3 separate regions of the Homo sapiens genome follow, and all the other regions are linked to region 3. The links come from fine-mapping of genetic effects on plasma protein levels. A gene starts in region 3. Each other region holds a variant in brackets. All regions are shown on one strand. Distances are between the middles of the regions.

The links. PIP is the posterior inclusion probability: the model's chance that the variant is causal. The UK Biobank Pharma Proteomics Project read protein levels with antibody pairs (Olink). The fine-mapping took linkage between variants from a reference panel, not from the people measured, so its PIPs are less certain.
Region 1: its variant is fine-mapped to the plasma level of the MAN1A2 protein (UK Biobank, PIP above 0.99).
Region 2: its variant is fine-mapped to the plasma level of the MAN1A2 protein (UK Biobank, PIP 0.90).

What each region holds. Positions count from the first base shown.
Region 1 is chr1:117,551,500-117,555,858 of GRCh38, reverse strand. No RefSeq gene overlaps it. Among named protein-coding and RNA genes, the nearest start is that of TENT5C-DT, 52 kb to the left of the region's middle. The variant C/T (reference allele first, on the strand shown) is at 1,853.
Region 2 is chr1:117,484,013-117,488,371 of GRCh38, reverse strand. All of the region lies in intron 8 of MAN1A2 (mannosidase alpha class 1A member 2), which reads right to left. Among named protein-coding and RNA genes, the nearest start is that of MAN1A2, 120 kb to the right of the region's middle. The variant T/C (reference allele first, on the strand shown) is at 2,306.
Region 3 is chr1:117,365,125-117,369,124 of GRCh38, reverse strand. MAN1A2 (mannosidase alpha class 1A member 2) reads right to left here and starts at 1,676. Exons shown (of 13, transcript NM_006699.5): 1 at 640-1,676. The coding sequence starts at 941. RefSeq lists an enhancer at 611-750 and a silencer at 1,621-2,440.

The sequences.
Region 1 (4,359 bases), 190 kb before region 3:
TTCTTGTCTCTGGATTCTTGTTTGGTAAAATTCATCTCATGTGAATGTATTCCCTTGTACTTCTAGATTGCATTAACCCAGTCCCTTCATGGGCTGCCCACTTGAGATCCTAGATCTCACACCCTGTGCTGTAGTGTTTTATCCAACCCTGGAAGAGACGGAAGGAGAAAAACTCTGAAGGAATGGCTAGTTGGCCTAGCTTCAAGAATAGCTACAAGAGATGTAGGGAGCTTGCATCTCATATAGTTTTCTATACACTTATCACTGATACAACCCCAGCTTTCACCTATCCACTGAAAACTCCTCTCAATCACTCAAATAAATGAGGGTATTCCATCATTTTCCACTTCCTGGAGCTCTATCTCTGGATCCATTTGACCATACTCCACTCTGGACTGGTTGACATCTATACTTCGTACACAGCTGTTATCCTGAAATCTCCTTTCACCGTCATTTTGAGTTTTTCTCCTTCTGTCTCTTAAGTTGAAACTGTTTCCTGAATTACATATCTTCTTCTTTTCAACCTATCCATCTGACAAATGGCTAATATCTAGAATCACAAGGAACTTAAACAAATTTACAAGAAAAAAACAAACAACCCCATCAAAAAGTGGGCAAAGGATATGAACAGACACTTCTCAAAAGAAGACATTTATGCGGCCAACAAACATATGAAAAAAAGCTCATCATAATTGGTCATTAGAGAAATGCAAATCAAAACCAAAAGGTCATACCATCTCATACCAGTTAGAATGGTGATTATTAAAAAGTCAGGAAACAACAGATGCTGAAGAGGATGTGGAAAAATAGGAACGCTTTTACACCGTTGGTGGGAGTGTAAATTAGTTCAACCATTGTGGAAGACAGTGTGTGATTCCTCAAGGATCTAGAACCAGAAATACCATTTGACCCAGCAATCCCACTACTGGGTATATACCCAAAGGATTATAAATCATTCTATAAAGACACATGCACACATATGTTTATTGCAGAACTATTCACAATAGCAAAGATTTGGAACCAACCCAAATGCCCATCAGTGATAGACTGGATTAAGAAAATGTGGCACATATACATCATGGAATATTATGCAGCCATAAGAAAGGATGAGTTCATGTCCTTTGCAGGGACATGGATGAAGCTGAAAACCATCATTCTCAGCAAACTAACACAGGAACAGAAAACCAAACACCACATGTTCTCACTCATAAGTGGTAGTTGAACAATAAGAACACATGGACACAGGGAGGGGAACATCACACATCGGGGCCAGTTATGGGGGTGAGAGGCTGGTGGGGGGATAGCATTAGGAGAAATACCTAATGTAGATGATGGGTTGATGGGTGCAGCAAACCACCATGGCACATGTATACCTATGTAACAAACCTGCATGTTCTGGACATGTATCCCAGAACTTAAAGTATAATAATAATAATAAAAAAATAATCCTTAGAGGAAAATTACCAAATTATCATTATTTCCCTATAAAATTAAAGAGGCAAAACACAACTAAGATAAGGTTTCTGCCCACAACACATTTACAGTTTTAAAAGAGATTAATAGGTTGGTAGGTTTAAGTTATACAAACATTAAGCAGTGACCAGGTACAGTGGCTCATACCTGTACTCCCAACACTTTGGGAGGCCAAGGTAGCCAGATTGCCTGAGCCCAGGATATCGAGACCAGCCTGGGCAACATGGTGAAGCCCCGTCTCTACAAAAATACAAAAAATTAGCCAGACATGCTGGCATGCTCCTTTAGTCCCAGCTATTCAGGAGGCTGAGGTGGGAGGATCACTTGAACCAGGGAGGTTGAGACTGCAATACGGCATGATTTTGCCACTGCACTCAGC[C/T]TAGCAACAGAGTGAGACCCTGTCTAAAAATAAATAATAAAAATATTAAGCAAAGCAAGGCATAATTTAGTACTAACTTGATTGATGCAGAACCTATAGGAGATGTGAAGCCACTTTCTTGGTTTATACTTTTGTTTTGGTAAAAGACCTCCTAAGAAATGGTGCATAGTATGAATAGGGTGCATATAGTTCAATTCTGGCCTTGGTATTAAGCCTCAGCCTTAAAAAGGCCAAAAAGCCAAATGCATACTTAAACATAATTTCTGGCATCTATAAATTTTTACTAATCAATAATCTTGTGACCTTCAGGGTTACCACCATATCTAATTAGTGCTGAATCATCAGTAATGTGAATAAGCCACACCATTCAAATTATTGCTAATATTAGAATATTCACCTTCAAATATCAGTAGTCACTTTAGATGACTTTTGGAGTGAGAATCTACTTGTGTGCTTTATACATTGTAAATCTATCAGTTACTTGAACATGTACTCCCAAACACAAAATGCATTTGTATTATTCAAAAATTGAACATCTGGTAAAATTTGGCTGTGAATTCATCTGGCCCTGGGCTTTTCTTGGTCAGGAAATTTTTTATTACTAGTCAATTTCATTACTCGCTATTGGTCTGTTCAGGATTTCTATTTCTTCCTAGTTCAGTCTTGGAAGGTAGTACATTTCCAGGAATGTATCCATTTCCCCTAGGGTTTCTAGTTTGTGAGCATAGAGATGTACAAAGTAGTCTCAATTGATCTTTTGTATTTCTGTGGTATCAATTGTAATGTCACCTTTATGATTTCTGATTGTGTTTATTTGAATCTTCTCTCTCTTTTTCTTGGCTAGTCTAGCCAGTGGTCTATCAATTATGTTTATCTTTTCAAAGAACCAACTTTTTGTTTCATTGATCCTTCATATCATGTTTTTTTTTTTTTTTTTTTTTGTCTCAACCTCACTTAATTCTGCTCTAATCTTTGCTATTTCTTTTTCTTCTGCTAGCTGTTGGTTTGGTTTGTTTTTATTTTTCTAGTTCCTTGAGGTGTGACATTAGGTTGTTGATTTTAGGTCTTTCTATCTTTTTAATGTAGCCATTTAACACTATAAGCTTCCAGCACTGCTTTTGCTATATCCCAGAAGTTTTGGTGTGTTGTGTCTCTTTTCATTTGTTTCCATCTTTTTAATTTCTGTATTAATTTCATCATTTACTCAAAGATCATTCAGGAGCAACTTGTTTAGTTTCCATATATTCAAATACTTTAGAGAGCTCCTCTTGATATTGAGTTCTAATTTTATTTCACAGTGGTCTAAAAAGATATTTCATATGATTTTTTAAAAATTTATTGAGACTTGCCTTATGGCCAAGAATATGGTCTATTTTCCAGAATGTTCCACATTCAGATAAGAAAAATGTATATTTTGCAGTTGTTGGGTAGAATGTTCTGTAAATGTCTATTAGGTAGGTCCATTTGGCCTAGAGTCCAGTTTAAGACTTTGCTGATTTTTTGCCTTGATGATCTGTCTAGTCCTGTCAGTGGGGTGATAAAGTTCCCCACCATTATTGCATTGCTGTCTCTTTTCTTAGGTCTAGTAGTATTTGTTTTATGGATCTTGGTGCTTTGGTATTGGGTGCATATATATTTGGGATAGTTATATCTTCTTGTTAAATTGAACCATTTGTCATTATATAATAACTTTTGTCCTTTTTTACAGTTATTGATTTAAAGTCTGTTTTATCTGACATAAATATAGCTACTCCTGCTCATTTTTGTTTTCTGTTTGCATGGTATAGTTTTTCATATGTTTATTGCAGCACTATTCACAATAGCAAAGTCATGGAATCAACCTAAGTGTCCATCTACAGATGACTGGATAAAAAATGTGGTAATTGTATTTATATATATATACACACACACACACATACACACACACACACGATGGAGTGCTACACAGCCACAAAAATGAAATTATGTCTTTTGCAGCAACATAAATGGAGTTGGAGGCCATTACTATAAGTGAAATAACTCAGAAACAGATAATCAAATACTACATGCTCTCACTTATAAAGGGAGCTAACCAGTGGGTACACATGGACATAGAGAAGGAACTAACAGACACTGGGGACTTCAAAAGTGGTAACAGTAGGAGGGGGTAAGGGTTGAAAAATTACCTGTTGGGTACAGTGTTTACTATCGGGGTGATGGACACGCTGGAAACCCAAACTTCACCATTACACAACATATCCATGAAGCGAACCTGCATCGGTACCCCCTCAAACTATTAAAAAAATTGAAATGCTATAAAAAGTAATGAGCAATTTTACATATGAAAACAATTATTAAAAACAGCCAAATAGCTGAATATATAGGAAACAGAGTGTTGATTTGAAGGTTAAAAAAGAGTGGATTCGTGACATAAACATAGGAAGAACTTCATATCCTTTTTGAATAAAATGTTAATTAAAAACTAAATGATACAAGAAAGAATAACAAAGATTAGATTATATCATAAT
Region 2 (4,359 bases), 120 kb before region 3:
ATACAAAAATTAGCCAGGCATGGTGGTGCACCCCTGTAATCCCAGCTACTTGGGAGGCTGAGGCATGAGAATACCTTGAACCCAGGAGGCAGAAGTTGCAACACTGCACTCCAGCCTGGGCAATAACGTGAGACTCTGTCTCAAGAAAAAAAAAAAAAGCCATTTGCTTTCAACTAAGATTAATGATATTCTTTATTTTCCATCTAAATATCTAAAAGGACACCTCTGCTTTATGAAAGCTTCCTGAATGTCAAACATTAAGTGGCTGGGTATTACAGAAGTCACTTGGAGGAGTAGAAGACAGGGCAATAATAAGATGTCTTATTCTACATTTCAGATAGAACAAGAAATTCACAATTAAATTTTGAATAGCTTTCCATACTCATCATACTTACATTAATAATTTTATAAGGATGGTAATGTATGATGGATTTATACAATAGATTATAGTTAGAAGCTAAATTAATTCTAACAAATTGACACATTTTATAATCACAAAAAAATCATAAAAGTTAACACATAACTTGTAAAATATTAAAACAATACAGAAATGAATAGAGTAGATAGGGAGAGTCCCTTATACTTAATGGGCATTTGGGATGGGGTAAAGGTTAGTGGTACCTTTTCAGCACATTTTTTGGTAATAAACAAGAGAGCAGTGATTTTACATTTTAACTATTTTGAAATATGTATATATCAAAACAACTATGACAAAATATTCCCATCAATATTACAACATCTATTTTGCGGTTATGTTAAAATGTCTTGACTCATTCAGTGACGCTACCATTTTATCAGCTGCCCAGTCTTTTCTTAGACATCAACTGCGTAAAATCATGCTACATTTTAGTTGTCCTTATGTTTTAACTATGACTTTCTTGTATAGCTTTTAGTTTTCTCCAGATTTTCTAACTGGTTTCCTATTGTCTCCCATCACTTTCCCTAATCATTTATTGTATCCTAGCCTATCAACCATGTTACTTATACTGAGTCACCCCTCCCTCCTTACTCCGCTAGAGACCTTCCTCCCAATCTGGTCATTTTCTAGGGATACTCCACAGCTGTCATCTTGCCACTTCTCTTTTCTTGCTTTCCAGAGTTATGCCTATTGCTTCTTCAGTCCTAAGTCTTTGTCTACACCTGTTTTACTGAATCACATTCTGAAATAACTTCCCACAAAAGTGTGTGGGATGCAAACCCTTTCATCCGAAAATGTCATTGCTATGCTCTCTCACTTAATTTTATTTCATACGGGTATCAAATTTAAGGTTGGAAATAATTTTCCCCCAGAGCTTCTTGAAAGTACCATTCCAATACCTTCTAACATCCAGTATAATTGATAAGAAATCTGATGTTATTTTTAATAGGCTTAATATGTTCCCAATCTTACTTACTCACACTCAGCTCTCTTCTCCAAGGTTTAGAATCTTCACTTAAACACTGATTAAATTTAGGTATAGTCTTTTTTTTATTTGTTTGTTCTTACAGTCATTGTGCTAGGTACAATGTGCTAGGTACAAACTAAAGATCAGTATCTTTCAGCTCTGGGAAAAATCTTTTCTACTATTTCTTTGATATTTTCTGTACTCCACTTTCTCAGTTATCTCCTCTGAAACGCTCATTAATTGGAAATTGAACCTCCTGGACTGAGTTTCTATTATTTTCTCTCAAATTTTAGTCCTTTATTCTCCCTGTATATTCCAGGAACTTTATTAAATCAATTTTATCTTTAGTCTCTTCACTGAAGCTTTAATGTCAGCAATCATACTTTTAATCTGAACTCTTTTTTCATTCTCTAATTGCTTCCTTTTCATAGCATCCTATTTTTACTCTATGAATATAACTTCTCCGAGTTATTTGACTAAAGTGGAGAATTAAAAATGTTTATAGAATTGTCTGTCTCCTGTGGGATCCCTTTTTTGACTATATTTTTACTGTGAAATTTAACATGTATACAGAAAAGCATATAAAACATAAATGTTCTCCTTATTATAGAGAATACTTGTATAACCCACAGTCAGAACAATACCTTCCATGTATCCCACAAAATCATAATTCCCACCCACCAAAAAAGTAACCAATATCTTAACTTTTGGGGTAACTACTTCTTTGAATTTTTAATACATTTACCATCTGATACCCTCTCCCAAGTACTATGAGCTTATTTTGCCTATTGGTATATTTAATATATTAATTAAATGTAACCGTATTGTCATGTCCAGCTTCTATAGCTCAAGATTCAACCATGTTGTTATATGTAACTATGTATCATTTATTTGCATTTCTGTATGTTATCCCACTGTAG[T/C]AGTCAACCATTATTTAATTATCCGTGCTTAAGAATAAAGTTCTGGGTAGCTAGTGTGGGTTTCCTCTACTGAATAGCAGGTGTTCCTCCACTGAGTAGACCTAATTGTCACTAATTCTATCCCCTGAGTGGGAATACTGACTGGCTGCTTTCTATGTAGAATACTTTGAGGAAGGATGGGCTAACTGGTAGGCTTTGTTTCAGAATCAGGAATGGATATTGAGGGACTGTGGACCTGGTTAAATTTCACAATGAAGGGAGACTTTATTTTGGGAAACTAACATCCATATTGAAAGCTTTAACTTTCCTCAATGAAATCATGTGATTTTTTAAAAAAGAGGGCTGTATAGTTATTCTAGTGGTAAATACCAGGGATGGAGGTGGAACATAAGGATTTCAGGTAGAGCCCATGTTCCACATAACGACCTTGAATAAATATCTGGTTTTTGCTGTACTTTGAATATATTTGTTTACTGGTATCTATTGTTTATGAACCCAAAATCTCTCTGGGATTCCATCAGTTACCTTTCCTGTAGTCCCTCTGTAGCCATTCCCAGCCACTCTATGTTCTGCAAATTTGTTGAAATATCTTGTCCATTATTACCTCCCCCTTGCCTTCAAATCTTTTTATTATTATGAGTTTATGCCTATTTATAAATATTTATCTACTTTCATTTCATTATGGTCTCAAGAAAGATGAATGGCCACAGTGGTGACGTTATAGTTCAATCTTCTTCCATGAAGCAGAAGTACTACTATAACCTTATCAAGTTCACTACTTCTTTGATAACTGCAATTAGTTAATACTATACATGCTTAACTTCTTATTCCTCTGTCTCATAATCTGCTCCCATTGTTTGTCCTATCATGAATAAAAACCAAAGCACATGGAAGCTAAAGGAATCTTGGTTTAATTCCTGTATTTATTTATGGCATGGAACTTGTAAGTTTATAACCACTTTGTTATTCAAGATGATTTTACATAGAAAACCTTTTTAAAATGTGTTGCACAGAAAAACCTTTGAAAAATCATAAAACATTTAACCCTTGAACACAGATTTGAACTGCGTGGATCCACTTACACGTGAATTTTTAAAAATAAATATATTGAAATTATCTTTAAGATTTGCAACAATGTGGAAAAACATATAGACAAGCCACATGGCCTAGAAATAGAGAAAATATTAAGAAAGAGTTGAGTGTGTCACGAATGAATAACATATGTGTAGATACTAGTCTATTTTACCATTTAGTATCATGAAATACAAATCTATTATAAAAAGTTAAAATGTATTAAAACTTACATATACACAGACATACATGGTGCCATTGATAGTCAAGAGAAATGTAAACAAATGTAAAGATGCAGTATTAAATCATAAATGTGTAAGATTTATTGCAGTACATACTTTACTACTGTAATAATTTCACAGACACCTCTTTTTGCTATGCAGTGAACTCAAGTGTTAAGAGCATCCACTTAAAACAACTTGTGACACTAATCATCTCCGTGTCTTCAGTAAATTGCATATTGCAGTAAAAAGCGATTTCTCATGGTTCTTGCATATTTTTCATTGTTTGGCACAGTAGTGTAAACCTTCAAAAACACCATGGGACCCATATGAAGTGCCACTAGCAATCTGAAAGTGTTCCCAAGAAGCAGCGAAAAGTCATGATATTACAACAAAAAGTTGGACTGTTTGATTTGTACTGTAGATTGAGGTTTGCCACTGTAGTTGCCACCATTTGACACAGACTATTCATCTTGTAAACAGACAACATAAATTTACAACATCAATAAACACAGTACAGTACTGTGTATGTATTTTCTCTTCCTTATGATTTTCCTCATGACATTTTATTTTCTCTGGCTTACTTTAAGAATACAGTATATAATATATATAACATACGAAATATGCACTATGTTATTGGTAAGACTTCTGGGTCAACGGTAGGCTATTAGTAGTTAACTTCTGGGGGAGTCAAAAGTTATATGTGAAGTTTTGATTACACAAGGGGTTGGTGACTCTAACCCCCCTGTGTTGTTCAAGGGT
Region 3 (4,000 bases):
ACAAAGTGCAATAACTTAGGATTCAATACCTTTTAACTTAACTGATTTCATATACAGCACCAACACACATCCCCAAAAAAAGAACAAAAATCAGGATATTTTCACGTTAAGAAATGACAGGTATATTCTGCCCACGTTTGTCATCCTAAAAAGCTGACTCACTACTAAGCTTCAACTACAAGCCAGAAAACGAGAGCCCTCTGGGAGAGCACACCCAAAAGAGCTGTCAAGGTTCGATGCTTTGATTTCACATGGTGGCACAATGACTGACTCCAACACGTTATTAATAAATGCAGGCACAGCTTATGTCACCATTTCTTTAGGTTAAGTTTTCATACCTCCCTTCCCAGATGTCCACATTAGACACAACTCTGAACGCAAATGTTTTTCTTATATAAAACCGAAGAGAAGAACGACTTAGGTAGGACTCCAGTCCTACCAGTCTATGGACTCTACCATAGACTGGAGGTAGAGTCCCTCCAGTCTATGGTTTTATTCAGCCAGTCTTGAAGTAACAATACAATATTTATGACTCGAAAAATTACATTTTACTGCAAGAAAAAAAAAAGACAGATTCGATCCAATCACCGTACCTTGCTCTGCCAAATGTTAGTACCAGAACTTCTGAAATAAACAAACCTGTGTCTATGTTCATCGGGTCCATGGATCAGGAAGACTCCGGGGTTTTTAGCCCCTTTACCGGCATCTACATGTGGAATTAACACATCTTCTAAACCCAAATCAAAGCGTTTGTGTTTTGAAGAGTCTGGAAGGAAAAAGAATGCCCCAAAACACAGAGTGATGAAGGCACTAAGAATAAGGAGAAGAATAAACTTCTCAGAAAGTCTCAAGGTAGCCCTGTGATGTGGGAAGGAAGGCGGCCCCAGGTTCAGAGGTGGTATCCTACGTCCAGAGAGGGGCAGCAGGGCTGGGGTAGTCATCGTTTACGCTCTTGGAGAGAATACTTTAGAAAGTTCTCATCTTATGTCAAATGTAGAATACATTGAACTGTCTTCAAAATCTTGGCCAAAATGGGAAAACTCAATTTTGCTCCTCTTAAAGGACTGTTGTGCTTTTTAAGAGGGCACGTCATTCACGCCCATCCATTCCCACTCAGAAACGTGTGTGACCTCCCCCAAACGATCACAAGTTTAGGTCCTGCGATATCCTCTTCAACATCTGTACTTCATCGGATTATTACAAGCCTCCTCTTCATTCCTAGGGGTAGATCAGGCAAGCCACACTGCAGAAAAGCTGCAAGGTGGGTTCTTCCATTCCTGCACCTCAGTGAGATGCTCAAACGTAGTCTTCCGCCCCGAAAGGGAGACTGGCGACATCCGAGGAGTTGTAGAAGGTTCACTTGATCTCCTTCGACGCTTCTATTCCAGAATCTCTTAACCTTAGCGGTGGAAAAAATAAGGGTCTCCCACGGACGTCTGCAAACAGGGAGGAAGGTCTCCCACTTCGCTGGGAAGCCGAAGCAGCGGCGCTGGGCGAAGTAGCAGGAAGGAGTTCTCGGCCGCCCGCGCTTCCCGGCGCTGCCTGGCAGGAACCTGGCGCCCGGCTGAGTCCCGCTGCTGCCCACTCGACGGCTGGCGCGAAGGGCAATAGCGTCCGAAACACCTGAGTCCGGCCAGCCGCCGCGGCCGCCGCCGCTGTTGCTACCGCACGGGTCTGTCAGGGAGCGGAACTTCCTCCTCCGGCGGCCACTGAGAAGCCCCGGCGTGTCCTGGGGGAGGGGAGGCGCGGCGGCCGCCCCCGCCGAGCTCCTCCTCCTCCTCCTCCTCCTCTTCCTCCTCCTCCTCCTCCTCTCCGCGGCCGGTTCAGTGAACCCCGGCGCCTGCTCCCCGAGCTAGGCCGCCGGCCGCAGTGGCCGAGCCCTCGCGCCTAAGAAGCCGAGCCGGGGCCCACGCTCCGAGAGCCCGGGGTAGGCGCCGGCTCATTCCTCACTCAGCCCTGGAGCGGCGGGAGGGCCTGGGCGCGCGGGAGCAGCCGCGCCTCGGGCGGGCAGAGGTCGGCCGCGTCTCCTTCCTGCCCGGCCGCGGGGGCCTCCTCCGCGCCGCCTCCGGTGGCTCGCAGCTGCTGGCTCTGGCGGCGGCTGCCAGAGAGGCAGCGCGCCCACGCCGCTCGGGGCTGCGGCCCGGTCCCCGTACCCTGCCTCCCCAGGCCTGGTGAGCGCAGCAGCTGCTGGGCCGACACCCGTTGGGCTCACGCCGGAGAGGAACCGGAGGGCGGGGGCGATGGGACCCGGGCCGGCCTACCGGCCCCGGCTCGCGAGTGGGCGTCCCCGGGCGGCGGAGTGTGAGGTGCGCGCGCACGCTCCCGGCTCCGCTGCCGCCGCCCCTCCCCCACCCAGCCTGGCTGCCCGGGCTCCGGCCTCGCGCCGCTGCCGGCTCCAGCAGCCCGAAAGCGTACTGCTGCCGCCGCCGTCTGAGCGCGAAAGAAGAGAAGGTCGCCGATCTGCGCTGCCACGAGAACTTCACCGGTGCCCAGGGCCTTGCCACCGCCAGTTCGTGGGGTTGACCCAGCGTTTGGGCGAGAGGGAGCGAGGGGTTGGGTCGCGAAGGTTTCGCTGAAATGTAGTGTCACCGGAGTTAATGGCTTCTGATGGCTTAGGTTAACGTTTACTGTGATTCTTTGGAAGTCTTGTCTTCAGCGATAGACCGTCAGGCCCGAGGATTCAGCAACAGGGTCTCAAACTTCCACGCAGCAGCCCATGCTCACGTTATTGGGCCCCCGAGGCTCGATTAATAGAGCACCAACATGTGCCATGTTACGTTTTTAAAATAAAGTGGTGACCCTGCTCCTTCAGCTGGGCTTCCTTTCAGAGGAATCTAGGTACCCCCGATATGACAGGCGTCTCTTCATTGTTCAGTTTCTGGGGCACGTTCTATCATCTTCACACACCTCATCAACCCCCTTCCCATAAAAGAGAAAATGGATGAATAAGGAGGTGCTGAAACCCAAAAAGGCGACAATATTGTTTACGTTCAGGCTTAAAAACAATCTGAATCAATTCTGTTCTCCGTAGTATTGAGGAGAGCCATGTTGTGATTAAGTGCAAAAGATTTCCTTGCAAGATACATAGACTCTTGCATCCGATTTACTTGCAGGTTGTTTTTGTTCTAATATTGTCATTCCCTGTACACATCCTTTACTGATGACTGGGAATTGGAGAGGAGGCCCTTAAATGTCAGGAGAGTAAGTCAGCCTTAGCTTAAAAATCAAGCAGAAAAGTCTCATGTTCATTGGCACACTTGTAACTACATTCCAGTCTCCCAGTCTGCATTATTTCTAGAAGCTCTGCATATCTAACTGCCTACCACATGACAAAAGTCATTGTCATTGATCCTGCTTCACCAAATAAAAAGTAAAAATATTGAGGGCCACCTCTCACCAGTTCACCCAGGGAGACTGGTAAGCAAGGAGTGCCCGGTCCCTAGTGAGATTTATGTTGAACATTTGTGAAGAGTAGATATAAGAAACTTTTAGCCTTCCCAATATGTCTTTATAAAATGTGCCAAATTTAAGAATAAGTCTCTAATGTTGAGACTCCGTAAGCCAAAGTGGGGGGGGCGGTGGGGAGGCGGGGAAGAACACACTGTTTTCCTACTGTTGAGATCATTAGTTTCCATGAAAAGTTCAGGGGAAATAAATACTGAACTCTGAATGAAATAGCAAGTTATATAAATCTTGAAAAATAAATATTACCTAGGTTAACACTAGACTTAACCACAAGAGATTTCAATCATGAAACCTGACATAACCTAGTTGACAAGTATAGCTTAAGCAAGTAAGACCTCATTGCTGATGGAGAAGACCCCTTTTCCTTTGCTTGTCTGTTTTGCAAAATTCATTTTTCCTTCATGAGAGTAAAAACAATTTAGGGGTTATTGCAGATGTCCAAATGCAGCCAGCAATTTTAAAGTCATTGATGATACCGTCAGTTATCACACTCCTACACCAGCAATGAAAATACTGTATACATAGTATTACATAT